Regions from separate parts of the Homo sapiens genome. Here region 1 is linked to region 2. Evidence: fine-mapped expression QTL. A gene starts in region 2. The other region holds a variant in brackets. All regions are shown on one strand. Distances are between the middles of the regions.

Region 1 (16,122 bases), 38 kb after region 2:
ATGATAGTGCAGGACAGTAGACAGAAGCAAACATATCTCAGTCACATACTCACCCCCACTTAGGTCAAGCCACACTGATGAACCACAGTTTGGCCTGAGTTCAGCTAAGTGGGATTTCCCAAAATGTGCTTTGAGGGATACTAAGCCCTGAAGATGCCCTATGAGAAATGTGTTCAGCGCTCAAAGGTATTCAAGAAGAACTGCATAATTGCTCCTCTTTTTGAAGACTCACAAAGCACGGTAGCATCATTAAAGGCTCTGAGAAGTTCTGCAGCAGAAAACAAGCACACAAAACATCCAACCTGTTTCACTTTGATTAACCCAGAATTTCCAAAACTTGTTATTTTCCAAACTGGTTTTTATCTGCTTCTTTGGTGTAACACCTTTGAACATGCCCAGAATCAACAGCGTGTTCCAAGCCAGGCTCTGCACTCACACTCTCTAGATTCACCTCATGGATCCCGGGGGATCCATGCTTGTGCCAGGATCCCGGAGGAAGTCTCTTAATCTCTCCAAACCTCAGTTTTGTCGTTAGTAAAATGGTATTAATAATCCTAGTTTATAGGGTTGTTGTGAGGATTAAATAAGATCACATGTGAAACATCCGCAGCAGGCACTTGATGAGGTTGTTATTAAAACGCTAAGGATGTGTTTCCCTCCCTGCCTGCAGCAGTCATATCCTGTCCGTCTTCATGTTTCCTGGTCCATCTGTCTCTGTTTTCTTAACCTTCAACTTTGGGCTCAACTTTGGGTTCATTATGAAGTCAGCACCCACCAGCCCAATAACCTTGTGTCTGTGGTTCTCATCTACCAGTGCTGGGGGCAGTTTTATAAATCACTTTTTCTTATCCCCATCCTGAAACTGGACTACAGTGGGGAGTGGATCAGAGGAGGTCAAGAAGCTACTTTTTGCTAGCCTATGATGAAAAGTTTATGGTTTGTGTCCTAATTTGAGAAACGTGGGGTTTTTAAAATGAGACATTCCTTTAAAGGCACCCAAGTGTTTACAGCTATAAATATCGCAATGCAATAAAATCTGGCTGGGCCCTCTGGCTGGTGAGAGACAGACACCCAGCCCCGAGCTCAACAACATCCAGAGGCAGGACATCATATTCATGGAAGATTCTGGTTAGTGGGACTCTGTTCTATGATAAGATTTTAAATCAATGCAAGAGCACCAATGCAGTTAATGCAATGTTCTGTGCCAGGCTGGCTATTGCTGATTCTTTCTCTGCTTCTTAGGTCATCACGACAGCTCTAATCACAGGGCCTTGTCTCTCTCTGATGGGCCTGATAAGGAGGATCCAGGGAACCTTCCTGAACCTACTGGGTAAATGCAGAGAGGAGAGCATCATGAAGCCACTTTTTAGTGAGGTCTTTTGTAGAAGTAGGAGTCAGGGCACAAAGCAGAAACCACTCTGTCAAGCCCCAGTCAGACTTAATCCAAGCAATCAGATGTCAGGGGCCACCCCGAGGCTAATGGTTCAAGATCACATTTCCACAGCTGCAGGTCAGAGGTCAGGAACTGCTGTTGCTGCCCCTGCTGCTGTCACCATGGTTGTTGTGAGCCCATGAAGCTGGTGACCAACAACTGGAACTTGGTGTCTGGCTACTGCAACCACATCTGCCCCTTCTTGTTAACTTCTTCCTTCTAAAATTGCCTGAATGTATCTCAGCCTAAATCTCTCTAGCTCCAAGGGAGTCTAAAAAAGTAATTTAGAACCTTCCAGCCCTTGTAAGACAGGGGATGGGGGTACATGGAAGGGCATGGGCTGGATTCCAGAAGACTGTCTTAGGCATCTCTTCTAGACAAAACAAGAGTAGCTTGAATTTATTGCCTTCAATTTGCCAGATGCTGTGTTAGATGGTTTACATATTTATCCAATTTGATTTTCACCGCAGCCCTCTGAGGAAGGTATAATAATAACCCACTCTTACAGATGAGAAAACTGAGGTTCAGTGACACTGAATAAATGACTCAAAGCCTGTGATGGTGAATTTTGTGTGTCAACTAGGTGATAGTGGCCAGTCATTTGGTCAGACACCAGTCTAGATGTTGCTATGAAGGTATTTTTTAGATATGATTAACATTTAAATCAATAGATTTTGAGTAAAGCTGATTACTCTCCATAGTGAGTGGGCCTAATCCAATCACATGAAAACTTTTGAAGACATCCCCTGAGTGAAAAGGAATTCAATCTCCAGACCGCCTTCGAACTCAAGATTGCAGCATAAACTGCTGGGACCTGTTGGCCTATCCAGCAGATTTTTGTTTTTGTTTTTGTTTAGAGATGGGGTCTTGCCATGTTGCCCAGGCTGGTCTCGAACTCTTGGGCTCAGGCAATTCTCCTGCCTCAGCCTCTCAAAGTGCTGGGATTACGAGTGTGAACCACTGGCCTCGCCCAGCAGGTTTTGAACTTACCAGCCCCCAAAATTATGTGGGCCAATTCCTTAAAAGAGTGCACTCTCTCCCTCTCTCTCTCTGTCTCATATATATGTATATCTCCTGTTGGTTCTGTTTCTCTGGAGAGTCCTAATATGAAGTCCAACAAGAAGTAGTAAATGGTATAGGTGAATTTCAAATTCAGGCTTGTCCAACTCAAAAGCCCATACTCCTAGAAGAGAGACTTCAGACAGTCTCATCTTCCTAGACTTTCAACAGCTCTTTCAGTGCTTGGGGAGCTCCACACTCAGTGCAGGAAAGGTGGACCATGTATTTGGGGACATCCCAGGTGAAAAGAAAGCAATGGTCCACCTAACTATTGTAAACCCAGGTTACGAGGGGATTGCTGAATTTGTTCAAAAGTCATTCTTCAAACATTAATTGAGCACCTCTGAGGGGTCAGAGACTGTGTCAGGCTTAATACAGATGTAAAAAATACATTCAGAGCAACAATAGCAATTGTATTGCTCCTGACTTCCAGTTTGCAGATGATGGCCTCAAGTTAATATTTTCTTGGAAATCACCTAAAAGCAACAAAGATGTTTCCTGGAAACTCAGGAAACCTAAAAGCAACAAGCAGAACAAGAAACAGAAATTCAAATTCTATCTTTATAAAACTGTAAGAAAGCTGAAGCCCTAAATAGGAGGAAGAATGTCAAAAGATGTAGAAACAGAGGAAGAGCCAGGGAGGGAAGAGAAGAGAGAGTGCAGAGGTTGCAGATCTCAGGGAGCTGGCAAAGCGCACCTATCCCAGGTGTTATGGCACACCTGAAGTTCTTTTGTTGTTGTTTGTTTGTTTGTTTGTTTTTTGAGATGGAGTCTTACTGTGTTGCCCAGGCTGGAGTGCAGTGGCATGATCTCGACTCACTGCAACCTCTGCCTCCCAGGTTGAAGCAATTCTCCTGCCTCAGCCTCTGACTAGCTGGGGTCACAGCCATGCGCCATCACTCCCAGCTAATTTTTGTATTTTTAGTAGAGACGGGGTTTTGCCATGTTGGCCAAGCTGATCTCAAACTCCTGACCTCACGTGATCTGCCTGCCTCAGCCTCCCAAAATGCTGCGATTACAGGTGTGAGCCACCACGCCTGCCTACACCTGAAGTTTTAAAACACAAATCTTTTGTTTATAAGAGTGAGAATTGGGTGCTCAGACAGGAATTGGAGGTTCCCTGCATCCAGTTTGGTCCTGGGGAAGAAAGAAGGGGTGGCATGAAGAATGACACAGGCAAGCCAGGTCTGCAGGAAATAATCAGTGTAGGAGGGGGAGCAAAGAAGCTTTCTTTAGTACCAGGCCATTGGCTGTCTGTATGAATGATGTGAAGAGAAGTAAAGACTCCTACTGACATCCCTGGGTTATAAGGAAAGTTCCTGCTGGCTTGGAACCTGACTTCCTGCATGAACACCTGCAAGTATTTAATCAAGGAAAAACACTCTTCATTTAAAGTTTATTCATCAAAAGTCTATAAAGGTGATTTCTGCTTCTAAACAAGATGGACTAACAGGGACTGGATTTACCCTCTGCCTGAAAAAACAAAATTAACTAAAAAAGCAAATAAAATAATTAGAAGCAATGATGTTTAAAATATTGGATATCATACAGTGACATTCAGTGATCTCTGAGAGATGGGAAATAAACAACATGAGCCCTACAATTGCTCCAGGTTACTGCTCAGAGAGAGTTTTTAAGTCATGGCCCAGAGAGGGGAAAACCTGGATATAGCATGGTGGTCTCTTAGTTCAGCTGGAAGACCTGAAAGGCTAAGAGGGTTAGAGTTTTCAGAAAATAATAACAGAGAGAAGAGAGCTTCTCTGTCTCTGTCTGTCTCTCTGTCTGTCTCTCCCTGTCTCTGTCTCTCTGTTTCTCTCTCTCTCTCTCACACACACACACACACACACACACACACACAGAGAGAGAGAGAGAGAGAGAGAGAGTGAGAGACAGAGAGAGAGTGCTCCCTCCAGAGATCTATAGAGGGCTGGCTTGAGTCTTCTGCTATGTACTGATCAGTGAATGCACGTGAGGCAATTACCTGAGGCCAGGTGGAACAAGAACTATCTGAAGGATTAGAGGAAAAGTTCTCACCTAAGATCAGGTACAAGGCAAGGAGGTCTGCTCTCACCACTTCTACTGATACATGCAACAACATGGATGAATCTCATAAAAAATTATACTGGGTAAAAAAGCCAGACCAAACAGACAGTATGTATTGTATGGTGCCATTTGTAGAAAATTTTAGAAAAATGCCAACTAAAGTGAAAGAAAACAAACCAGTGATGTATGGGAATGGAAAAAAGGGTAGGAAGGGATACAGGGAGACATTATAAAGGGTACATGGAAACTTTTTGGGGTGATGAATATGCTCACAATTTGATTGGGGCAATGGTTTCATGGGTACATGCATATGTTGAAACTGATCTATCAAACTGTACACGTAAACATGTGCAGTTTTTGTATGTAATTACACCTCAATGAAAAATACACAAGAAACAATGAAGAGCAGGACAAGAAAAGCCAATGAAACACAATAAACCAATAAGTGGTGGCTCTGAAGAAAAAAACAGAAATCATGTAACAGAACAAATATTTAAGGATACAATTTATCAAAATGTTTCAGAAACCAAGGAGAACATTAATCTAGCTATTGAAAAGGAACAACAGATTCCAGAAGAAATGAACAAAAGTCCTCATCACTGAGACATATCCTAGCAAAATTACTGTACTTCAGAGATAAAGAGTCTTTGGGTCAGCCAGGCAAAAAGGCTAAGAGAAGTGATTTGTTAACTTTAGGCTTCTCCAAATTAGCATGCAACCCCAGAAGACAGTGGAACTAATCCTAAAAGCTCCCCAAAGAAAGCAAGTGTGATCTAAAATTTTTACACCTGGCTTTTTATTTTTTAAAAATGTAAAATCAAACATTTTTGTGTATGCAAGAAATTAGGAAAGATTGTTCTTATAAACCCTTCCTGGAGAAACTATTAGAGGACCAACTTCAACACTAATGATGCTCAAAACAGAAGATAATAACGAATTACACAAGGAACATTGCCCAGTAAAGAAATTGACTGTCCATTGTCAGAATGGAAATGCCTGAAGAGGATTTAAATGTTTTGAAAGAGTCTGGTAACTTAATGGTACAGGAGCTAGGAAACACCAGTGTTTCAGAATACAGCCAAGAAATAAATGCAGAAAAGCAACCACGTCTGACAGCAGTGGAGATTAAGAATTTCTAAATTGATATACCACGATACTGCTGTCCAGTCTGCCTGAGAAGGTAAGGTCGGGCTAGATTTTTATAAGATGCCCTGGGAATATGGAATGTTTACCCTTCTTGGGAGTGGGACACTTGCCATTTTCTTCAGGGGAAGACTTTTTCTATAATGAGTGGAAATGTCAAGTGATTGAACAATGGATTGCACAGAAATTTAAAATGATCTTGGCAGAATTAAAATAAATCATTTAAAAGTTATCAGATTAATTTTGGGGACAAATAAGAACATTTTAATAGGGCTTGTATTTTAGATTTTGGAATTATTGTTAATTTTCTGAGGTATGAGCATGGTATTATGGTTGTGTAGGAAAGCATCCTTATATTT[A/C]TAGAAGATTTATGTTGAAATATATAGGGGTGGAGTTCCACAAAATGTACGCTTTGCTTCCAAATTTGTCAGCAAAAAAGTGTATGTCATACCTAAGGAAAAATAAAATACAGTGAAATGGAAATAATGAGTGAATATTGGTGAGGAGTATATGGGGTATTCATTATACTAATCTTTCAACTTTTTCTGTAGGTGTGAGTTTCCAAAATAAAAAGTTATTCAATTCAGAACAGAATATCAAAGCAGCAAAGATATCTTTTAGAGAAATCAAGACCTAAAATAAACATCTTCCTGAGGAAGTATCTGGGCTTAAAGATACAATCAGTTGACTCGAAGAAACAATTCAAACGCACAGAAAGATGTGCTTACAGTTTGGGGAACAGAATATCAAGAAGACTGGAAAGCTGAAACTCTATGGAAAGGTTACACATCCTTTTTCTGTTTTTCTTTTGAGATGGAGTTTCGCTCTGTCACCCAGGCTGGAGTGCAATGGCATGATCTGGGCTCACTGCTCTCTGCCTCCCAGGTTCAAGCAATTCTCCTGCTTCAGCCTCCTGAGTAGCTGGGATTACAGGCACCTGCCACCAAGCCTGGCTGATTTTTGTATTTTTAGTAGAGATGGGGTTTCACCATGTTGGTCAGGCTGGTCTCAAATTCCTGACCTCATGATCCGCCCACCTCAGACTCCCAAAGTGTTGAGATAACAGGTGTGAGCCACCGTGTCCGGCCAGGTTACACATTTTTACAGGTAATTTTATTTTAAAACTTCCAGACAGGGGAGCTCCCTAATAAAGATTATCTAAGCAAAGTGAAGAGACAATGTCTTGACACTACTAAGTTCAAGAAGAAAAAATTCCAGACTTAAGTCGGCATGGAACAATTATTATTTGGGAAGGACAAGGTTGTAATGAATGAAATACTGAGCTCAGGAAATGAATTACATTGTATTTGAAATCTCAGAAAGTCCTAGAAGCAGCTCTATTGCACAAAGAGGATGAAACTCCCATTTTGAATAATTACACTGAGCTGCTGAAACACCTGATGATCAGGGTGAGAAGACAAAAAGTCAGAAAAGACAGACAGTAGCTACCGCTTCAACAAAATTAAGATCAGTTGGAAACAGTGGAGTCCATTTCCAATTCCGACTGTGTGATGACGTGTCAGCTAGGCAAAAGCAGGAAGCACAGAGAAGTTGGACATGGACCTTGGACACAGCATTTCATCAAAGCTCACCTGAAAAATGGATGCACAGCCTTGTAGCTGAAGCACAAGTTCTAAATGCCCTGGACAGGCAGAGAGGCATGGCTCCGCAGGAGAATGGATAGGAAGAGGGAGAGCAAGAGCTCTCAGCAGCAGAGGAAGTGAAAGCTCATCAGCAAGTAATTTAAGAACTGGAGGATGAATTACAGGGTGGGTGGGGGATGAGATCTAATAAGACCTAGATTGCTCTTAATGGTCGGAAAGTCCGTGACAGCAGGCATACCGCTGGTGCTGCAGAAAGAGCTTTAGTTGGAAAGAAGAGGCAAACTGCCAGACCCGGACAGAAATTAATACAAGGAAAACCAAGACACCAATGCTTCAAACACCAGTGGCTATAACTCCAGGAAGACACGATTACCAAATCCTATTATAGAGAGCTCTCCTGTGCCAAAGCTGATCTTTTGGCCCACCTGCCAGAACTGGAGGTGTCCTCTCCCCAGGGTCTGCTACATGAGTTGCTGGGTCCAGTACAAAATAAAAATGTGTGTCTCTTGATCGAAAAGCAAAGCCTGGGCAACATGGAAAAACCCAGCCACTACCTAAAATACAAAAAAAAAAAAAAAAAAATTAGCTGGGCATGGTGGCACACACTTGTAGTCCCAGCTACCTAGGGGACTGAGGCAGGAGGATCACTTGAACCTGGGAGGTCAAGGCTGCAGTGAGCCAAGATTGTTCCACTGCAGTCCAGCCTGGGAGACAAAGTGAGACTGTGTCTCAAAAAAAAAAAAAAGAGCAGGAAAAAATGCCCCTGAAGGTACTAAAATATATAGCTCTTTCCTTTCTTCTGAGGTTTGGTGCTTTCTGTCAACTTGGCATGGTATTTTTTACTTGCCACTTAAGGTAAATCTCAGTAAAGAAAAATTAAAAATTGTAATTATACCGTTCATCTTTACATTATCTAATGGCAGTTTTACTTATGTATTTAGAGACAGAGTCTTGCTGTTCCCCAGGCTGGAATGCAGAGGTGCAATCATAGCTCACTGCAGCCTCAAATTCCTGGGCTCAAGCAATCCTCCTGCTTTAGTCCCCTGAGTAGCTGGGACTATAGGTGCATGCCACCATGCCTGACTTATTTTTTTTTTTTTTTATTTTTTTTTTTTGTAGAGACGTGGTCTCGCTATGTTTCCCGGGCTGATTTTGAACTCCTGGCCTCAAGTGATCATCCTGCCTTGGCCTCCCAAGGGGATTACAGACCTGAACCACCATACCCAGCCCACCAATGGCAATTTTAAATGCAAATATAACAGCATTTCTCTCATATGCAGAATCACTGAAATGATACAATTCTCATTTTTTTAGCTTATATATGTATATATTATTTTGTTCTTATCAGAAAAATGGAAATGTTGCACAGAACTAACTAAACTCTTTTTATTTCACTTCCAATATACCTACGTTCCACCAGCATGCTCTCTCTTCAGATGACTGAGGAGTGAGGAAGGACTGAGGGTAAAAGGAACCATGTGCTGTCCTGTCTTTCCCTCTCCTTCTGTGTCATAATTGTCAGTGTCTATGGCTGGCAAATACAGGGAGGTGGCATGAGTGAACAGGATGTGAATGAGGATGTGACAGAGTTCCTTGGTCCTTCATGTTTCTTAGAACACCGTTGCCTTCTTTCTGCATTTAAAGCAAGTTCTGGTTCAAAGGGAAAGTGTGGTCTCAGCTTACTCACTCAATACACATAACACACTTACGTTGCTCTTGCTTTGTGCCTTGTCTCACTTAACTCCCACGCATAGAAGGCCCACCAGAATTCTGTGCTCAGAAAACCAAAACACAAATTCAAAGAGAAAAGTATGAAGAGTTTCAAGAAGGCAACAGCAGAGCATTAGACCAAGCATGAGGCCTGAGCACAGGGCCATGTGCCACTGCACACACCGCATACCCAGAAGGCCAGCCCTGGCTCCATCCCACAAGTCATCATGGGCTATCTGGGCGAATCCTTTTCTCTCTAAGAGTGGGATCTAGAAGGGAATTTGCAACTGTCAGTCAGCCTCTACCTGGCTCTGGAAGCCTCTCACATTCCACGATGGATGACATAATTGATATTGTCCAAGGAGTACCAGCATGATCTCACCAAAGAGAGGATGCCATTGTCCTGGGTGAATGTACCACCTCCTAACCTAACCTTAGGCACCTCCATACTTTTTCCTCCCAGAGTCCTCCTGGGCCTGTTCTTCCTGACCAAGAGAAGATTCCCTAGACTTTCATCAGGAATAAGGGTCCTTCAAGTATTTCATGGACATCCACTTTCTAGATCCATAGTTTCTTGGCCTAAAATGATGTATTCCTTCTGGTTCCCACTGACTCCTCCCAACCCCATGGCCATCCAAGGAGAGGCCTTCACATTTCAGTGTCTGCACTGCCTCCTACATGCATTTGTTCTCAATGTCGTATACAGGACATTTCAGGGGCTTCTCTCGGACTTTTACCCTGAGTCCCTGAATAGAATTTTTAAAACTTTTCATATGCTTCAAAATGAAATATGCCTTTACCTTGAATATTAGACTTGTGCTTACTATTTTTAAATGTTCTTTTTTTTTTTTTTTTTTTTTTTTTTTGCTGACCAAGCAAGTCGACTCTGAATTTTGTAGAAGGGAAAACATTTGTATTTATTAACATGAAGATCACCTCTGAAGCTTTATCCTGCTACATACCTGTTCTAGTTTTAGTTCCTGTAGTTTGGGTCATTGATACGTCTTTATTTTTTTATTTTATTTTTATTTTTTGAGACAGGGTCTCATTTCTTGCCCAGACTGGAGTGAAGTGGTGCAAACATGGCTCACTGCAGCCTCGACCTCCTGGGCTCAAGTGATCCTCCTGCCTCAGCAACCCCCAAGGAGCTGGGACTACAGGTGGATGCCACCACACCTGGCTAATTTTTGTATTTTTTGTAGAGACGGGGTTTTACCACTTTGACCAGGCTGGTCTCAAACTCCTGACCTCAAGTGATCCGCCCACCTTGGCCTCCCAAAGTGTTGGGATTACGGGTGTAAGCCACCATTCCTGGTCTTGATACATGTTTTTACGTGTTAGGAAAAATATAATATGTTTGAATAATTTTTCTTTCCTAAATTCAAACACACACACATACACACAAATTGTTCCCATTCTCACAGTAGAAAATGACTTCATTGATGAATACAAATAGCAATCCCAAAACGTTTGTCAACAGCTCCCTGTGTACTTATTCCCGGAATGGTACCGACAGCTAGAAAGCACAGCTACCCTACTCAGAGAATTGAAGAAAGCCAAACCACGGCAACAACCAAGCCTTGTACATCTTGCAAGGGGTAGCTGGGGCCTCAGCTCCTCTAAGGAGCCCCAGATCCTGGCCCACCCCACACACTGAAACCATCCTTCTCTGTACTTCCTTGACCCTTTCATTTTCCCATTCTGTTACCCTCTGCCTACCGCGAACTTTTTTTTTTTTTTTTCCAGAGAATAACCTTTATTTAGAGTATTTGGCCCCTGAATTTTTCAAAGTATGTCCAGATACTCTGGCATCAGAACCCCACCAGAGTTGGGGTGGGGAGAGTTTTAAAGTGCAGACGCCAGCCTCCTCTACAGACATTTTAAAGCAGACTCTCTGGGACTCCCAGACATCTGCAGCTTTAACAAGTTCCCTAGAGAACTCTAATGCCCACTAAAGATTAAAAACCACTGACCTGGTCCCATTACCCATTTTACATTGGAGGAAATTGAGGCTCTGAGGTCACACAAGTCAGAAGCAGAGCAGTAGGGACTAAAGCCTGGGTCTTTTCACTCTTAGCCCATCCTGAGTCCCTAAACCAGCATCTCTAGTTTCTCTGCAGTTTCTTAATCTACATCTTTATCCTTGGCCACCTTGTAAACTCCTAAGCAACAAGGACCATATGAATTAAATTGAGTACCAGGCACAGCGTTGGGTGTGAAGTCACAAATTGTTATTTCAGCAAGTAGATTAACAAATGAAAAAAAAAATAAATGAACGATGATGCCTACAATGAGGCTTTACAACTTTCCAGTTCATTTTTTGTTTGTTTTATTTTTTTTACACAGGATCTCACTTTGTTGCTCAAGCTGGAGTGCAGTGGTGAGATCACGGCTCACTGCAGCCTCAACCTTCCAGGTTCAAGCAATTCTCCTGCCTCAACCTCCTGAGTAGCTGGGATTACAGGCACGTGCCACCATGCCTGTCTAATTTTTTATTTTTATTTTTGTAGAGATGGGGTCTCACTATGTTGCCCAGGCTGGTCTTGAACTTCTGGGCTCAAATGATCCTCCCCTCTTGGCCTCCCAAAGTGCTAGGATTACAGGTATGAGCCACTGTGCCCAGCCTCTGGTTCATTTTAAGTTCACTTTGACATGTCTTAATTGCTAGCCATTGCACGTCCTCTTTGGCAGAGGGCTGGGTTTAAAAGATAAAATAAATGAAGCTGAAAAAAGCAAGGTGTTCCCATGGAGCTAAAAACCCCTGGCCTAACTGTTCAAGCACCCAGCACAGGGTCCCCAGAATGACTCCCCAGCAGAGCTATCACCCTCTTCCAGCGTCAGCACTCCACCCACACTGTACTGTTTTAATACCTTGACTATGGCTTTATTCCCTCTCCATGTGGCCAAGGTCAATATTTATAATTGTTTGCTGCCTCCCATTTGAGCTGCTGGTGCTTTGCTTACATAAACATCCACCACCCCTCAGTTGGGTCAGGGGCTGGGAAGGAGAAGTTCATTAGTCTTTATGGCCATAATAATATTTCATGTCTAGGCAGTGGGGGGATCTGCCCATGCCTCCCTGAGATGCACGGCTGGCTGCAGGCGCTGACTATTGATTGCATCTATAATAATAGGATGGCTGCTCTCTGAAGTGGGACATGTAAATACCTTGACTCTTGGGTGGGAGGGAAAAGGTCTTTGTTGAAGGCAGAAATGTGTCATGAGTGTAGTTTTGCTGGAAATGGTCTCACCAGGTGGCATCTCTTTCCCACAATACCTTCACCCTGCCACTCACCCTGATGCCTCATCTTCTCGAAACAGAGAGATGGGTGGAATCACGTCAGTTAACTTTGATGAATAATAGTATTTGAGCATCTGAAGTGAATGGGCCCCTACAGATCTTTGAGTCCAACACCCTCATTACACAGATTAGGAAACTGAGGTTCAGAGAAGCTCCTGCAAATTCAGGACGTCACTTAAAAATGCTAGACTCCTAAATGGATATCCAGGATATTAACATTCCTTCATTCTAGTAGATAACGACTATGTACTAGGGGTAGAACTGCTTCTAGCCCATAAGGTGCCTTTTTGCAAGTAGGAAAAGGCACCACTTCCTCTCCATGGACGTGGGCCTGCATCAGGGTGCATAAGTGGCAAGCAGAGTGGCAGCTGGATCTCAGCCCCCTGCTGTCCCTTGTACGGTAACAACCTGCACAGTTGTCACTGGAGGCTCTGGCTAGGGAAGGACAAAATTTGTCCCTGAAGACAGGCCTGAGCCTTATTTACCTCTCTAAATTCCATCTCATCTAGAGCTATGCCTGGCCCACTGCAGGTGGAAGATAAATGCTTACATAAGGAAAGAAAAGAAAAAGGGGAGAAAGAACAATATCCAATTTCCTTGGGAACTTCATCAGTGAAACTTTGTGAAGGAACAAAACAAGCAAAACCCAAACAGCCAATTGCTAGGTCTGGTGCAGGAAAATAAAGCAAAATGAAATAGAGTCCAATTAGTTTGCTTAAACAATATTGAACTCCAGAGGAAAACGGAAAGATAGCCCTGCTGACATTACTGAGAGCTGCGGAGAGGGACCAGGCAATTATATTAGGGAAAACAGATAAGTTTGTGGGTTGCCAAATAAAGAAGCAATCACAGAGATAAAAGCAGGCACTTTCCCCAAACGGAAAGCATAACTAAATCATTCATCAGCTTCCCATGCAGAGCTCAGGCACCTGATCTGGAGACAAATAAGGAGGGGTTTTTTTTTTTTTTTTTTAAATGGTGTTATCTTGAATAGGCTGATTCCTTTGCCTAGAGCTAATCTGGATTAATCTGTCTTCCCAGGAGGCTATACAATTCTTCCTTTTCTCCATAAACCTTTGGAAGGACAGATGGTCACTTATCTGCAAATGAAGTTTGAATTCCCTCCCCCATGACAGGGGTAGGGAGGAGTCTTGGGGAGATGAGGGTGTCAAGAGCAGGGAAGCAGAGGAAAGGAAGAGAGATAAAATCTTGTATCATGTGCTGGGCGCGGTGGCTCACGGCTATAATCCCAGCACTTTGGGAGGCCAAGGCAGGTGGATCACGAGGTCAGGAGATCGAGACCATCCTGGCTAACACAGTGAAATCCCGCCTCTACTAAAAATACAAAAAATTAGCAGGGCGTGGTGGCGGGCGCCTGTAGACCCAGCTACTCGGGAGGCTGAGGCAGGAGAACGGCGTGAACCCGGGAGGCGGAGCTTGCAGTGAGCCGAGATCGCGCCACTGCACTCCAGCCTAGGCAACAGTGACTCCGAAAAAAAAAATTCTCGTATCATGTTTAGAAGTTCAAAAATATCTTCAACATTTTTCTGTCTTGTTTATTTAAACAACAAGTCCCTGTCCTTTTAGAGTCAGCTTTGGCATGTGTCACCCTGGAACAGGGATTTTGTCATCTTTTTGTAGTCACAGACCCCTTCGAGAATCTGGGCAAATGATGTAGATACCCTCCTCAAATAAAAAAAAAAAGACATATGCATATGTTCATACACTTTCACAATTTCAAAGGGTTCATGCGCCCCCTGAAGCCCATCTGTGGATCCCAAGTTAAAAACACCTGTTCTGGATCCCAGAATGAAACCTATTTTGGAGAGGGTCCTAGAGGCTTCAGTGATAACACCAAATGATCATTTTGCATTTTAAATAGGTTTGAAGACCTCAATGCATTAAGAAGAGAATCTCGAAAATGACATAACTTAGAAGCATTAGTGGGGGCCCTGCTAGCTGAGATCTCGGAGAGAAGGAGGAACTGGCAGGGAAGTGCTAGCAAAATCTTTGTAAGGGACAGATACTTTAATACTCAAGAAGTTACATCTTAGGCTGGGCGCGGTGGCTCACGCCTGTCATCCCAGCACTTTGGGAAGCCGAGGCGGGCGGATCACCTGAGGTCGGGAGTTCGAGACCAGCCTGACCAACATGGAGAAACCCCATCTCTACTAAAAATACAAAATTAGCTGGGCGTGGTGGCGCATGCCTGTAATCCCAGCACTTTGGGAGGCCGAGGTGGGCAGATCACCTGAGGTCGGGAGTTTGAGACCAGACTGACCAACATAGAGAAACCCCATCTCTACTAAAAATACAAAATTAGCCGGGCGTGGTGGCACATGCCTGTAATCCCAGCTACTCGGGAGACTGAGGCAGGAGAATCGCTTGAAACCGGGAGGCGGAGGTTGTGGTGAGCCAAGATCGCGCCACTGCATTCCAGCCTGGGCAACAAGAGCAAAACTCCATTTAAAAAAAAAAAAAAGTTAGGTTTCCATGAAAGTTTAGCCTGTAATTCATGAATACTACCACAAGGTGGGAGTGCTGCAGTCATACGTCTCTTCTAGGCAAGCTTCTGTGTGCATACTTGTGGGTTCCAAAACTAAACCAATAATTTTCCACTCCACTTTTTTTGATAACTCAAGAACAAACACAGAGAGCCAAATACTCACCTATGAAGTGCACATTGCTGATGTGGGCATTGGGGATAGAAAGATAAAGAAGACACATTCCATTCTTTTTTCTTCCTCAAGTAATAATTTGCCATCATGAGGCTCGATTTTCATTCCTCAAACTCTTTCAACCATTTTCTCTTTCAGAGTCAGGTAATGAGTACCTATATACCTTTCCTTTCACTTTTGTAAAATCTGTGTGAGATATACCTGGCATTTTTCCTCCCGGATCTCTTGAACTCTGAGATGATGTAGTCTCTTTTCTCTGATTAATCAAAACAAAGAATTATTTATTAAACTAGCTCACTACGATACAGATGAAGAAATATTACTAGTCACCAAGGAGTTCACTAAGCTGTCTTCATAAGCTAATGGTAGAGTTCCTAGATGTGCCATCTCTCTGTCATCCCACCACCAAACATATATACACAGCCACTCTTTAGGCTATTGAGAGGTAGGTCTGCTTCCACGAGGCAATTTGGCTGAGGCCTTGAAGGAAATTTCTCTGATTCTCTCTCAACGTACTTGCCTTCCCTTCTCTGAATTGCCAAGCCCTTATGGTCAGGCATTTAGCATACATTACCTAGTATTTCAGCTACTTGTCTCCCCAGGACAGGGGTGTGTTTCCTTCTGTTGGGGCATCTTTAGCAAAATGCTCAATAAGCAGCAGTGGTCAAATGCACCAATCAGCAGGATGTAAGCAGTCAGAGAAGAGTAGGGGGTGGGCACACTGGGCAGAAGGAATCACAAGCACAAAAACACCTAGGCAGAAAACTCCAGGCCCTCACAGGAGACGATGGTTCCTCCCATTGTGACCAGGGAGGTGTCACGAAGATGGAGGAAGACAGAGGGCTGGAAGGGTAGGGAGAAGACAGACTAAAGGGACTTTGAGTGCCAACTTGAAGCACCTGGATTTGGCTCAGCAGGCAAAGGGGAGCCAGCGAAGGTTCCAGGTAAAGAAGATCTCAGCAAGATGCAGAAAAGGCAGTGTGAGTGAGCAAGGAGCAGTGGGAACACACTACACCGATTCAGGGGTGAGATCATAGCAGGTGCAACTGTGCAGTGCCCTTGACAATGACAAGAAGTGGACTTGAATGAGACAGCGAATGGAAGAATAAATTAACAGGACCTGGTAGCTGCATACGGGGTGGCCAAAGAGAG
Region 2 (16,122 bases):
GTCACTCACCCAAGGCCCAGCCAATGTCTCCTAACTAGACTCCCTGCCTCCTATCTCTTCCCTCCCCAAGCCATCCTATGTACAACTGCTAAATGAATTTTCTTAAAGACCTATTACCCTCCTGTTCACAAACCTTCAAAAACTTTCACTGTCTACAGGATAAAATCCAAACTCCTTGGGCTGGAACCCAAGACCCTCAATTTGTTCAACAGATTGAAATGCCAGTAGACAGGCCCCTGTGCCAGATGCTAATGGCAGACACAGGTATTTAGACAGCTCTGTGTCCAGTCCACTGTTTTCGGAACTCTTTTGAACATGACCTACAATAAGGAATACATTTTAGACTGTAATCCAGAATACATATATGCAACAAAGTTTCACAAGTCAACACTTACCCTCCCTGAGACATTCTCTTGTATTTCCTATTCTACTTTAAAAACATTTTTAATAGGGAACAAGATCTTCTATATTAATTTCACCATCCACTAATGGGTCACAGTGGTCTAGGAAATTCCATGACAACACGATCCACAATCTTTTGTTCCATAAATGACCCTTCTTCTCCAGCTTAACTGGTCTTATTACCCAAAGATATTCTCAGTCCTCATCTCAAGCCTAGAATTCCGTCCACTTCCTCTTTCTTCCTTAACTCTTTGCCTTCCTTCCAGGCAAGCACCGTTCATGAACTGTCAGCCCTGACCTCCCTGGGCATCAGGGAGGGTGCCCCCTCTGCCTCCCCCAGAACTAGCTCTCCCGTTCATTAAGCACCAAACTATTCAGCACTACAGTGTCTCTCTTTTACTATAGGTCATGTCATGTATGATGCCAGATTGTTTAAGTACCAGGAAGCCACGTGTCTCCAGATCCAAACATGGCATCCCATACTTAGGTTCTCAATTCATAGCAGAACTTTCAGTTCATCTCTTCAGTTACATCCCCTATTCTTCTTCACGTGCATATTTAAAAGGGGATCACAAATACTGGTCATCTGATTTATGATGTTTCAGAAGTTCTATTTTGTCAGAACCTTCTTTTTTAGCATCAACATTGTAATTATTATCTTTTCAGTTAGATTAGAAAGTCTGATTGGAGAGGCCCTTATATTATCAGCCACATCCCTGACCCCTGATACTCATTAAAGAAAGAAATGTCTGTTTCAGATTTGACATGCATGCACAGTATGCGTTCTGGCCCAAGAAGAATGCATCTGGGCAGTGTTCTGGGCAAAGGGGAGAGTAGCATGAGATGACGGGGCTAAGGAGGGAGGGCATGAGGGTGGGAGCCAGATAAAGTAGGGCCAGGCAGGTTGCAGTGAAGATTCTGGAAATGGGAAACAGCTGAAGGTCTAAGCAGGGAACTAACCAAAAGCATGAAATCCCTGGTGCTAAAAAGGTTGGGGAGGAGGCCTAGCAAGAGAGAGCCAGACATTGACCAGGGTGGTGACAGCAGTCAGATGGAAATAGTGGACTGATGGACACAAAATACATTCTGAATATACATGCTGAGATTCACAATAAACTAAATTTATCATTTAGGGAGTATAAAAAGAAGAATGTTCCTATGTCACCATTTACTGAGAGCCTTCCAATGTATGAACTCTGGTAATCCAGGAAGCAGGCATTATTATTCCCAACTTACTGATAAGAAAACACTGAGAGGTTAAGTAATTTCCCTAAAGCCATAAAACTAGTGATAGGCAGAGATGAGGTCAGTCTCGGATCCTAGGATGGTCTCCTCCAAAATATATTTTATTTAATTAGGGGCCTTTATGGGGGGTGGCAGGAGAAAGGTTAGGGAGCTAGAGGTAGATGGGTGTGGGGGTGGGGGGGTAAACAAACTGACGAAGGGAACAAACAAGAGGAGAGATACGGACATTCTTCTGCCTCATTTGGAACTTGTCGGAGTACCAGTTCCCTTCTGCTGTAAAACCTGGGTGAAGAAGTGTTTGTGACTGTTACATCACACACAGGCATGGCCCAAGGAAGGCACTGCCATTCCTCAAATATCAAGCTGCTTCTTACCTTAGGGCCTCTGCACTTGTGGTTCCCTCTGAGAGGAATGCTCCCTTCCCCTCATATCACTTGGTTGACCCCTCCTACTACAAACGGCAAAAATGTCACCGTATGTGCCCTTGGCTTAGTCCCCGTTTTTGCCAGGGTGGTTCCTTCTTGTTAAATGTCTCCTCCTTAGTGAGTTCTCCCTGCTCAGCTGATTTAAAATAGTACTCTGCTCCCCTCACCCCTAATTCACTATCACAGTCTACTGGTTTTATCTTTTTTCTTTCATAGCATTTATCTGGTTTTGTTTATTGTCCTCCTTTCCCTGCTGCCCCAAGCTCAAATGCAAGTTGTACAAGAGTAGGACTTGTGTGTCTTAATTACACTGTCTCCCAGGATTTAGAACAAAAGCTGGAACACAGCGGGCACATGACAAGATTTTTGTTGAATGAATGAATGATAGTGAGGGAAAGGAAGAAATTCAAGATGACTACTAGATTTTGCGGGGGTGAGGCACAGCTGTGCTTAGCCAGGCGACTCCAAAGGAGAGCCTTTGAGCAGAAGGCCAGCCTGAGCCAAGGCCTGGAGGTCAGGAGTGGTGGATGGGTATGGGAAATGGGTTCTGGGGCAGGGTGGTGTGCTGGGGGCTTGCCTGGGATATGGCTGGAGAGGGAAGCAGGAGGTTTCTGTAGGAATTTTTAAAAGTTACCAGCATTTTTGTCCTAATGTGGAAGAAGCTCGTCACAGAATTATTTCAGGAAACTGCTTTTCTCCAAGCAAAATCTGGTAGTGGGAAGGAGGATGTAGATACTTCCTCATCAATGACTGCTGAAAAGATGCAGCGGCATTGTCAGTCACAGCGAGGCCCGGGTCGGGGCAGAGGCATCATTGCAGTCAGAGCTTGGCCCAAATGGAGGCCGCAGTGGCTTTGTTGCTCCAAATGACATGGTTTAGTTATTTTGATGGCCAAAGAGTATTCTTTGTGCATATACATTACAGTTTCTTGATCCCTTCATCTGTAGATGGACAGGAGATAAAGTTTTTGGAATCTCCATGCCTGAGATTAAAAGGTGTGGGACTTCCTCTACCAGGCTCATTTCCTTGGACCTAATATCCTCTGGGTTTCTTGGGTTTCTCCACATGGCTGTGGATGACAGGATTTCCCAAAGCTTTATGGCTGAAGCATATTCCATAGTGTATCTGTATGGTGGTTTCTTTATCCCTTCAGCTGTGGGTGGACAGGACAGGTCATTTACCATGATGTCCTCTAGGTTCAACAGTGTGGCTGCAAATGATGTAATTTCATTACATTTTTCTGGATGAAGAGTATTCCATTTGTGTATATATACTACAGTTTCTTTATCCCTTCATCTGCGGATGAACAGGTTTCTCCACATGGCTGCAAATGACAGGATTTCATCCACTTCTGTCGTGGAAGGGTATTCCATTCTGGATATATATTTCAGTTTTGTCATCCCTTCATCAAGGGATGAACAGGTTCAACTGTGTGGCTCCAGGTGATATGATTTCAGTATATGTGCACAGCTGAAGGGTATTCCATTGTGAATGAATACTACAGTTTCTGTATCCCTTCATCTGTGGATGAACAGGTCTCTCTCCACGTTGCTGGAAGTGGGGTGATGTCCTAAAGTTTGATGGCTGAAGAGTATTCCATTGTGCAAATATCCTGGAGTTTCTGTATTCCTTCATCTGTGGATGAACACGACTGCTTTACATTTGGCCTGTGCCAATGGCCATGTGGAAGTGGTCACTCTCCAGGTGAACTGAAAGTGCCAGACTGACATTGGTGACAAATGAAACAGGATGCCTTTGATGAAGGCTGTACATTGCCAAGAAGAGATTTGTGTCATCATTCTGCTAGAATGTGGCACCAACCCAGATCTTATGGATGTCTATAGCAACAATGCACTACACTATGCTGTGTATAATGAGAATACACTACTGGCAGAAAAACTGCCCTCACACCATGTGAATACTGAAGTGCTGAACAAGGATACTGAAGTGCTGAACAAGGATGCAAACACACCACTTTTACTTGCTATAGTTTGCAAAACACAGCAAAAGGTGGAATTTTAGTGAAGAAACAAGCAAATGTACATGCTGTTGATAGGTTGAAAAGAACAGCTCTCATGCCTGTTGTACATTATGGCTTGTCAGGTATAGTTAGCATTCTTCTTCAACAAAATATTGTCTTTACTCAAGAGTATGTATGAACAGACTGCAGATTATGCTATTTCTGGTGGTCTGACAAGCACTCACAACAAATTTTGCAACATTAAAAAAAAAAGATACTTGAAAATGGTCTTCAAAATGACAACCCAGAAGAAGCATCCAAGAAGAATGCAAGTTTGAAAACAGGAGGAGCAAGTGCAAAAGATTCTGGGAGTTCTGAAGCATCTGCATTCAGTATTTAAAAAAAAACTGTGTGTTGACTCATGGCCTAAACCAGATGATGAAGACTTGACTTTTACTACCAAGCAGTGTATCCCTGAGAGTGTTTCAAAGTCTTTACTTGGACCTTCATATAAAAAAGGAAAAAATATATAGTAAATGGAAAGGGAGAAGGGCCTCCTGAAAAACATCCTTCCCTAAAGCCTACCATGGAAATGAAAGATTCTGTTGTGAAGAAAGCAATAGAAAGGAAGAACGAACAAACATCCAAAGCAGAACAAGAAGTACAAGTGACATCAGAGGAAGAACAGGAAAAGCTTGAAAGTGAAAATAAACAGCCACAGGTTGAAGAAGCTAGAAAGAAGCACGAAAGTTAAAAAAAAAAAGTATCAAAAAAACGTATATGATAGTACATCTGCTGACGATGATGATAAATTAATTCAACAAAGAAAGAGTGGAAAAACTTACCATCAGCGATTTCCTAGGAAGGAGAACAAAGAGTATGCTAGGCCTGCAAAGAAAATGTCAAATGAAAAGAAAAAGGTCAAAAAGCAAACTCATTTAGAGATGAACCTGATGACTTAACTCGGCCCTCTGAAACAGCTTCAGAGGATCATGAGAAACCTTACCCTCATTGTAAGAAGTTTATGATGCTCATTAAGCAATATGGAATGGATTGTAATGATTCTCGTATCCTAATGGAAGTCCAGAATGCATTTCTTTCATGTGAAAAGTCACTGGACCTTAAAAAAAATTATCTGTGAACAACTTACACTAGACAATAAGAAATATGAAAACTGAGTTTAGTGTACTGAAGGAGCTATCCAAAACACAAGAAACGAAGTCACAGTTCAATATCAAAAAGTAGAATGGAAACAGGAACTCTACAGTTTGCAGCTTAGAAGAAGATGAGAAGAAATGCTAATATGTTATATGAAAAAATTAGGGAAGAGTTAGAAAGGAAAGTGGAGCAACATAGGAAAGAAGTTGAAGTAAAAGAACAGCTTAAACTGACTATCGGATCACTAGAAATAGAATTGAAGGCTTGAAGAAATACTTTAAGAAAAAAAAAGATCTGATGCATGAAAATTGCTTGTTGAAGAGAGATATTGCCTTTATTGTGTATGTAAGTATACACAATAAAAAATAGGAACCTCGAAAGGGAAAAAGGACATTGAAATTGTTAAAGAAATGAATGATGACCTTCAAGAGACTATAAAACTGAATGGAAAAACATTAACAAAAACAGTATCCCAGTATGGTCAACAGCTTAACGACCTCAAAACTGAGAATACAATGCTCAAGTCTAAACTGGAGAAGGAAAATCAAAACAAGGAAAGACTGGAAGCTGAAGTTGAGTCATTCCATGCTAGACTGGCTGCTGCTATAAGTGAGTGTGATCAAAGTGTGAAAACAAAAAGAGACCTAGAACTTGCTTTACAGAGAGCACAAGACGTTTCTTTACAAGAAAGAAAATGAGTTCTGATATTTCTGAACTAAAAGATAATAATGAGTTTTTAACTGAGCAACTTTCCGAAGCTCGAATTCAATACCCTAAAAAGTAAACTCCATGACACAAGAAATTCTCTCAGAGAAAAGGTTTTGGTTTTATAAAGTGTACAAAAGGACCTAAGCCAAGTAAATCCTTTGGAAAGTGGGACTACGTAGAGGAGAGAATATCTCAACTACAACATGAAAATCTGTTGCTTCAACAACTAGATGGTGCTCATAAGAAAGGGGATAATGAACAAAAGGTAATTAATATCCAAGGATGCTGTCTTGAGAGTGAAAAGGAAGGTCTTCTGCTAGAAGGGAAAAATAAGGAATTAATCAATGAATGCAATCATTTAAAAGACTGTTTCAGTATGAAAAAGAGAAAGCAGAAGGAGAAGTAAGTATCAAAAAAGATAAATATTTTCAAACTTCCAGAAGGAAAATTTAAAATATTTGGCTACGGCTACATGTTGAACCTAGTTGAATATAAAAATTAATAGACAAAAAATGTGTTTACCATACTGTATAATTCCATTTACATGAAACATCCGGAAAAGACAAATGTATAGATAGAAAGCAGACTGACATTTGTGCGGGGCTGGGGTTGGAAATGGGTAGTAACTGCTAATGTGCAAGAGGGGTCTTCTTGGAGTGATAGAGACGTTCTAAAGTTGCAGTGATGGTTGCATGACTCAATAAATTTACTAAAAATCTTTGAACTGTATGTTAAAAGAGATAAATTCTGTAGTATGTAAACCTTATTTCAATAAAGCTGTTTCAATTAAAAAAACAAAAATTAAAAATAATTTAAAAAAATAGAATGCTAAAGAAATCTCTGACAGGCCACAGTGTGCCATCAAAATTGTCTGACATGAATTGTAAATTAGACTTTTTCTTTTCTAAACTAGAGGCAGAATCTGAAGAAAAAAAATTAAATGAGAATTTTCACACCAGAGCAAACCCAGAAATGATAAGTCAATGAAAATGAGCTTAAGGCAGAGTCCCTTATGGAAAAACAGAGCAATTAACAAGAAACTGGAGGTCCAGCATTTCCTCTCATCCTTTTGTCTGGCAATCAGCGTTTGGGTTCTCAATAATGGAAGTTTTTCTCTGAATTCAGTTTCTCTGGGTCCACCTCAATGATCTCATTCCTTTGGAAATGAGACATACAGTCAAAAGTTCATTGCATGGGTTAGACATTGTTTTTTAACTGCAGAGAGAAAAAGAATAAGGGAAATGGTTTCTAAAATCTTAAGCAAGTGTTGTACTTAGAAAGTTCTAGTCAACAATAAAATTATCCAAAGACAATTAACACAAACTGCACACAAGGAAATGGATTGTCTGAACTCTGCTGCGCTCTTTTCACCTTTCTGCAAGTCAGCTGGAATCCTGTATATCACTGAGAATATCAAATCAAAATTGAGTAATAGGTTCAGTAATTTTTAAAAATTCCCTCAAATCAAATGTTGTGCAATAATAGATGAACTTACAGGAAATAATTTTAAGGTGAGCAAGGTACACTTTTCTTCCAGTATATTTTCATTTTAAAAGGAATTTTTTAGTTCTTATTGCACTTATGAGGAACAAAGCACTGGGCACAAATTGTTACAAAGCACTCATCCCTTGATATGTTTTGTCTTGTATTTCCACATAGACATTTCAACCTCACTGCAAGCCACCTTACCATTTTACTGAGTTAAAACTAAATGAAAACACAAAAGGATGCAAATTAAATTCATCTGCAAAACAAGAGATTACCAAAACAATTAAATGTGAAAAGGTTATCATACTAAATCACTTTTTTTTGTTTGTGTCTTGAACATTCACTATGGAACTGGAATAAGCTTCTGCCACTACCGGCAGTTACAGCTACCACACTTTGGTAAATTCTGTATTCAAACGCATTTCTAAGTCACAGGCTATCTGGGCTACTAGCTGCATGTGCCCCAGGTGCGAATCAAATGAAGTTTTAATTACTGCTACTTGTGATCGGTATCCAATTAGACCTTTTACCCTCCTCCATTAGCAGAGGGCTGTGGCTCAACTTGGTTGTGGAGAGGTTTCCCAATGCCACAGGGCGTCACGATAACTCAATTCGGAGTGAATAATTTAAGAGCAGAGGTGCTTTCTCCCAGGACCCTCGACTCTCGCTGGAATCAGGACCTGCGTGGGTCGCGGGCTGGAAAGAAAATGTCAAAACTGGTAACAGTGCTGACACGTGTGGCCGGAGATGAGCGGTCCGGCCCTCGATCAGGATGGGGGGCCAGTAGCCCCGCCTCCGGCAGCTAGGGCCACACCCCCGGCAGCTAGGGCCGCGCCCTCGACTGTGGCTCCGAGGCCAGGTCCTAGGGCCGAAGTTTCCATCGTCTCACCTGAACTAGGCCGGGCTGGGCCCGGGCACTCGCGGGCCTAGGTTTCCATACCAGGAACCGCTTTAGCCAGCCTGGGGCTGCCTTTAGAGTCGCTGCTGCTTCCGCCTTCTCTCCTGGGGTTTGTGCGCCCTGACTGGCAGCAGGGGGTTGGGCCGCCAGACCCGCCCGTTTCCGCGCCGCCCGAAACTCAGCTAACCGCTGTTCCATGGCGCGCGCCTCGCGTCCGTTGGCCGATAAGGGAGCGCGCGCCCGCAGGCCGCACAGCAGTTGCCTCCGCTCGGCCCGCGCCGGCCGCCGTGCGCCTGCGTGGCAGAAGCCCCTGCTGAGCATGCGCACTGGTGTGACCCGCGTCTCCTCCGTTTGTGAAGTCTGGCGGGTCGCGTGTATACTCAGCCGTTCTCTCTTCACAGGCACGTGGACACAGTGTCACCTCCTCAAGCCAAGTCTAAAGCACAGGGCTGCCCCATTGCCCTCTCCCAAAGGCCGCTCTGCCTTGCTGCATCTCACTTAAGGGCTCGAGGCCCCACTGATCCAGCGTCCTGTATTCGGGATCTCTGTTGCTGGGCCCCAATGAACAGCGCCACAGTGAGAAGATGGTTCCAGGGGTTAGGAGAGGCCCGTGATCTCTACGACATTCCAGCGTCAGAGGAATAACAGGCTACATCTTACCCTTTTTCTCTTATCAAGGAAAGGGTATGCCAATCTTAGTACCTGGAGGGTGACTTTCTCACTGCTCACAAAGCAGGCTGTGCAGCTCCATCATTGGTCTTGCCACGTTGGGAAATTATCTCGTTTTGTGTCTAGATACGTCAGAACCTTAAAAAAACCAACAACAAAAACTTTTATTGGGGTGCAACATAAAATACACATCTTAAGAATATGACTCAGTAGATTTGCTCTTATGTATGCACCTGTGTAACTACCACCCAGATGGAGAGAAAGAACATTTCTGTACTCTGGGAGTTTCCTTGTGCCCTCTCCCAATCAGTACCCTCCCAAAAGGACACAGTTCAGGTTAGGGGCTGTTTTATACGTTCTTAAAGCTGTAAGCATCTAGCTAAGTGTCACTTACATAATTAAGACTCAAATATTTGTTGGATCTGGCTGAGGGTGACTCGAGAAATTAGACAAATTAGAACAGAGTCATCCATTCATTTAACAGACGTTTACCTAGGGCCTGCTCTGTCTAAAGTCACAGGCACTGGGGATGCTGGGATGAAAGGAAAAAACAAACAAAAACCTGTTTTCTTAGAGCTTACACTCCAAATGGAAATACAGACAATAAACAAATGTGTATCTACATATTTCATGTCATATCAGGTACTGATAAGTGCTGTGAAGAAAAGTGAAGCAAAGTAGGCAATGGTGGAGGTATTAGAGAAGACCTCCCTGAAGGTTTGTCATTTGGGCATAGACTTAAATGAGTGAGGTATGTAGATATCTGAACAGGAGTGTTTCAGTCAGAGGAACAAGTGCAAAGGTCCCGAGGCCTCAAATAGCACGCTTGACTTGTTCACAGAACATCAGGGAGGCTGTTATGACTGGATTGGAAGGAGGGAGAGGGAGGCAGGGAGGGAGGGAGGGAAGGAGGGAAGGAGGGAGAGAGGGGGAGAGAGGGAGGGAGGGAGGGAGGAAAGAGTGACAGAAAATAAAGATGCCAGGGGCAAGATCGTGCATGTAAGGCCCTGTAGGCCATGGTGAAGACTAAGTGTGGTGGGAAGCAGTTAGTGGATTTTGAGCAGGAGATGATATGATATGACATATTTTTAAAGGATTACACTGGCTGATGGAGGTGGGACCCTGGAAGATTGCAAGAATAGAAGAAGGGAAACTAGTTAGGAATAAATATGGTAGAATGAGAAACTGTAGTAGTTTGAGCTAGAGTGGTAGTGATGGAGGTCACGAGAATTGGTCAGATTCTGAATGTATTTTGAAGACCTGAGCCAACATGGTGTGAGACGGATTGGATGTGGAATGTGAGGAAAAAAGGTATCAAGGATGACAGGGCCAGCCATCGTGGCTCACGCCTATAATCCCAGCACTTTGGGAGGCCAAGGCAGGGGGATCGCTTGAACCTAGGAGTTCAAGACCAGCCTGGGGAACATAGCAAGACCTCATCGCTATTAAAAAAAAAAAAAAAAAAAAAGGATGACAGGTTTCTTCCATTACTACCCCACTCCTCCTGCCCCCCCATATACATACACACATGCCCTGAGCAACCAGGCAAATGATGCTGGGGCCCTCTATTGAAATGAGGGCACACTGGGAGGAGAGAATTACAGAATAAACACTGGAAGTTTTGTTTTGGACATACAAAGAACTTGGGATGCCTATTGGATATCCAAAAAATAGGCAGTTAGATAGTGAAAATGATTTGAGGGGAAAGTCAGGACCGGAGGCACACACTGGGAGTCATCAGCATGTGTATATTTAAAGCTGTAAGACTAGATAAGATCAAACAGTGAGTGTGGATAAGAAGAGATTTGAGGGCTGAGCCCTGAGTGGATTAGAGATGGTTTGTAAGAGAAAAGAATGGGATTATTACACCACAATGTCCTCTCTTTGAGAAACCACAAGAGGAAATTTCTTGCCCATTTTGGTGTCAGGAGTATGTCTGCTTCTCTTGAGAGATGGGATTCTTTAACCGATTTTGTCTCCCACTTGATAATGACTCTAAGACCTTAGGCCCGCATCTTGCAGGTGTATAGAATTAAGGCATACAATTTGTGGGCGGTTGCAGTCAGGGTCCCTGACAGGAAACGTGGCACCTTCCAAAGGGTGAAGTAAGAAGGGCTTAGTGAAGGAGTAAGTTACAAAGGTGTGGCAGGATGAAGGAAGCCAGCAAGGGATGGTTCACAGGAAGTGCTACCTGTCTCTAGGCCCAAAGCATCAGGAGGACAGAGCAGTTATCAGAACCCAGTGAGCCCTGTAGCTATAGGAGAAGCAAGGAGACACAGGAGCCCTTCAGGGAGCATAGAACAGGTAGAGAAGGGTGGAAAGAGGATCAGAAGAGGCAAACAGAACATCCAGGCCAGAGCTAATGTGGTTCCTGCTCTGTCTTGCTTTGGAAACCTTATTTTCTTTTTGCTTTGTTTTATTTATTATGAATTTACTTTTACTTGGTGCTTTGTAAGCCTCTTTAAATCCTTTTTGGAAGAGGTTAAAAGAATAGAAAAAAGAAAAGATGAAAGAGACCATCATGAAGAACAACTCCTGCCAAGCCAACTTTATTTCCTCTTTGGACGGGATTATGAGACTAGTAAATAAGAAGGGTCCCCAAAATGTGCTTAATGTGTGAATTTCATTAATTTTTATTATGAAATATTTTGTAAATGCCACATTTTACATATATATAATGTATATGCCATATACATAACATATATAATGTGTATGTGTCATACATATAAGTTATAAATAAAATACCCACATGATATGGTTTGGATCTGTGTCCCTGCCCAAATTTCATGTCAAATTGTAATCCCCAGTGTGGAGGTGCGGCCTGGTGAGATTGGATCATGAGTTTTTTTCTAATGGTTTAGCACCATCCTCCTAGTGCTGTCTTGTGATAGAGTTCTCACTAGATCTGGTTGTGTAAAAGTGTGTGGCATGGCTGGGTGCAGTGTCTCACGCCTGTAATCCCAGCACTTTGGGAGGCCAAGGCAGGTGGATCACTTGAGACAAGGGGTTTGAGACCAGCCTGGCCAACATGGTGAAACCTTGTCTCTACTAAAAACATAAAAATTAGCTGGGCATGGTGGCACACGCCTGTAATCCTAGCTACTCGGGAGACTGAGGCATGAGAATTGGGTGAACCCAGGAGGTGGAGGTTGCCGTGAGGTGAGATCGTGCCACTACACTCCAGCCCGGGCAACAGAGCGAGACCCTGTCTTGGAAAAAAAAAAAATTGTGGCACTTTCCTGCCCCTTCTCTCTTCCTCCTGCTCCAGCCATGTAAGACCTGCATGCTTTCCCTTCACCTTCTGCCATGATTATAAGTTTCCTGAGGCCTCCCCAGCTATGCTTCCTATATAGCCTGCAGAACTGTGAACCAATTAAACCTCTTTATAAATTACCCAGTCTCAGGTGTTTCTTCATAGCAATGCAAGAATGCACTAATACAGGCCTTGTTATAGAATTGAGTCATTGGCCCGATTCTATATTCCTATCTGTATCCACGCCGTAAAAGGCAGAGTAGACTTCCCCATTCCTTGACTGTAAACTCAGCCATGCAGATTGCTTTGGCCAAATGGGATGATGGCAGAAACTACGTGAGCAGGAACTTGAAGTGTGTTTGTCCTGTTAAATAAATTCTCTTAATATTCCACATTTCCATGAGATGAACTTGCAACAGCTAGCCAGCTAATCCAAGAATAATGAAAGACATCTAGGTTGTGGTCACCTGGCTGACCCAGAGACTTGCAGTTTAAAGCTGAGCTGCCCAACTGAGCACAGCCTCAAATAGCTAACCCCCAGCTTACCCTAAAATGTATGAAAACAAATGCTTATTTTACATAACTGAAATTTTGCAGTTGCATGTTACACAGCAAATGCTAACCAATACATACATACCCAATACCCAAGAAGAACATTTTAAGTTCCCTGTGTCCCTGTATGCTCATTCTTGATTCCCCACTCCTTTAATCTATTAGTGTGGTGGGGTATAGTAATCGATTTTCTGTTGTTAAATCATCCTCCATTCATGGAATAAATAAAACTCAAATCACTTTATAAAACATAAAACTCAAAGCTAAATTCAGTTTGAGAATTTTCTAGAAATTTTACATCTTTTGTTCATTAGTGAGATTTTCCTATAATTTTCTTTTCATGTGCTGTCCTCAATTTTAGATAGATTTTGCTAGCCTTATGAAATAAGCTGAAGTGTGCCTCCATCTTCCACACCCCCCACCCAAATTTTCTAGAACAGTTTGAACAAAATAGGAATTAACTGTTTCTTTAATATTTTGGTCGGACTTAGTAGTAAAACCATCTGGACCTGGTGTTTCCTTGTATCAGGTAAATAAATGTAATCTACAATTAACTGGATTCATAGCTGGTCAATTCACCCTTACCCAAAAAGGGTCAAGAAATGGATCAACATTGCTCTGTCCTGTTTGATATTTTTAGGAGTGTCTTGGGTGAAAATATGAGAGAGAATTTATCGTTTATTCAGGTGACAAAAATTTGGTAGAGAAGATCTGCAGTTATGCCTTTAGGGTAAAAAATAAACCAAAATGAATTTGATTCAATTTATTACGATTAAAGCATTGTGGGGATGCTCAGAGGGAACTGTGCTTCCTTCTAGATTTGCATTTATGTTTTTATATTATTGTTTTTGTTTCTTAATCATTGGCTTGGGAGCAATTTGTTTCAATAGGACTTGGAGCCTTTCCCTGACCACAGACTGGGTAGGAGGAGGGTTATATGGGGAATGTTTCAGCTGCTACTATGAATCCCATTTTCAAAGTGAGAGAGGATATAGTTTTTTTTTTTTTGAGACAGTCTCACTCTGTCACCCAGGTTGGAGTACAGCGGCACGATCTCAGCTCACTGCAACCTCCGCTTCTCGGGTTCAAGCGATTCTCGTGTCTCAGCCTCCCAAGTAGCTGGGACTACAGGCACGAGCCGCCACACCTGGCTAATTTTTTATATTTTTTGTAGAGATGGGGTTTTGCCATGTTGGCCAGGCTGGTCTTGAACTCCTCACCTCAGGTGATCTGCCTTCCTCAGCCTCCCAAAGTGCTGGGATTACAGGCATGAGCCACTGCACCCAGCCCAAGGATGTATTCTTGATACCCCCATGTATTCATGCTCTCTTTGGTCCTATCCTTGCAGGTACCACATACCAAGTTCTGAGCACTATGCTTTATATGACAAACCATATAAAGCAGAGGGGGGTAGCCTGGATAATGATGTGTCTAGAGCAGGATTTCTCAGCCTTGGCACTTTTGATGTTTTGGGCCAGAAAATCGTTGTGGGGGTTGTCCTGTGTCTCGTAGGATTCTTAGCAGCATCCTGGCCACCACCCACTAGTTGCCGGTAGCTTCTCCCTTAGATGTAACAACCAAAAATGTCTCTAGATAATGCCAAATGCCTCCTAAGAGGCAAGTTTGCCCCTGGTTGAGAACCACTGGTCTAAAGACCACATTGTAGTAAGAATGGTAAAGGCAGTGAGTGATTTGGGCCAGAGAGGGAGATTCACGGTGAAAACATACCAGTTTGTTTTAGAAACTCTGTTAGAAGTGCTGTTGTGGCCCTCTGGGCGACTATCTTCCAGTCTTCCAACAGGCTAGACAGGAAATTCGCCAGGCTGCTAATCTTCTCTTGCCTACTCCAGATTCCCAGCCATATGAAGACACCCTAGCTGGACGATCAGTTCTTGTTAAGAATCTGACCCCTCAAACTCTACAACCTCGATGGACCAGACCCTCCTTAGTCATCCATAGTACCCCAATTGCAGTCTGCCTGCAGGACCCTCCCCATTGGGTTCACTGTTCCAGAATAAAACTGTGTCCATTGGACAGCCAACCTGATTTCTCCTCTTCCTCCTGGAAGTCACAGGTACTCTCCCCTACTTCCCTTAAACTCACTCGAATTTCTGAAGAACGTAATAACCCTCATGAGCCTAATACATCCCTTCATTCTATTAAGTCTATTCATCCTTACCCTCCTTTTTGCAACAGGGCTTTACGCAGTCACCCCCACTACTTGGACTGCGCCCCAAAAACTTGTCATCCCTACTATCTTCTGTCTAGTCATACTCCTATTCACCATTCTCAACTGCTTATAAATGCCCTGCTCTTGTTTACACTGCCAGTTTACACTGTTTCTCCAAGCCATCACAGCTGATATCTCCTGGTGCTATCCCCAAACTGCCACTCTTAACTCCCTCTTAGAGTGGATAGATGATCTTTGCTGGCAGGGCACCCTCCAATACTTTCACCCTGATAAAGTCCTATTCCTTAGTTTTATACTCTTATTCTCGTTCCCATTCTTATGCTACCCTCTACCTCTCCCCAGCTATCTCCACCATACTATCAATCTCAGTCACTCTTTCCTAGCCGTTTCTAGTCCTTTTTTAACAAACAATTGCTGGCTTTGCATTTCTCTTTCCTCCAGGATCGCCAAGGCCTCGACTTACTCACTGCTAAAAAAGGAGACTCTGTATATTTTTAAATGAAGAGTGTTGTTTTTACCTAAATCAATCTGGCCTGGTATATGACAACATAAAAAACTCAAGGATAGAGCCCAAAAACTAGCCAACCAAGCAAATAATTATGCTGAACCCCCTTGGGCACTCTCTAATTGGATGTCCTGGGTCCTCCCAATTCTTAGTCCTTTAATACCTGTTTTTCTCCTTCTCTTATTCGGACCTTGTGTCTTCCGCTTAGTTTCTCAATTCATACAAAACCGCATACAGGCCATCACCAATAATTCTATATAACAAATGCTCCTTCTAACAACCCCACAATATCACCCCTTACCCCAAAATCTTGCTTCAGTTTAATCTCTCCCACTCTAGGTTCCCATGCCGCCCCTAATCCCGCTTGAAGCAGCCCTGAGAAACATCGCCCATTATCCCCCCAAAATTTTCACCACCTCAACACTTCACCACCATTTTGTTTTGTTTTTCTTATTAATGTAAGAAGACAGGAATGTCAGGCCTCTGAGCCCAAGCTAAGCCATCATATCCCCTATGACCTGCACGTATACATCCAGATGGCCCGAAGCAACTGAAGATCCACAAAAGAAGTGAAAATAGCCTTAACTGATAACATTCCACCATTGTGATTTGTTCCTGCCCCACCCTGATAGACATATTCTCCCCCGCCCTTAAGGTACTTTGTAATA

What was found. PIP is the estimated chance that this variant, and not a neighbour inherited with it, causes the effect. A credible set is the group of variants that fine-mapping cannot tell apart.
Region 1: its variant is the best candidate, but not a certain one, in a credible set for the expression of SAYSD1 in whole blood (INTERVAL, PIP 0.89).

What each region holds. Positions count from the first base shown.
Region 1 is chr6:39,145,039-39,161,160 of GRCh38, forward strand. No RefSeq gene overlaps it. Among named protein-coding and RNA genes, the nearest start is that of SAYSD1, 38 kb to the left of the region's middle. The variant A/C (reference allele first, on the strand shown) is at 6,037.
Region 2 is chr6:39,106,608-39,122,729 of GRCh38, forward strand. SAYSD1 (SAYSVFN motif domain containing 1) reads right to left here and starts at 8,579. Exons shown (of 2, transcript NM_018322.3): 1 at 8,276-8,579. The coding sequence starts at 8,482. It also overlaps the pseudogene ANKRD18EP. RefSeq lists an enhancer at 8,173-8,462.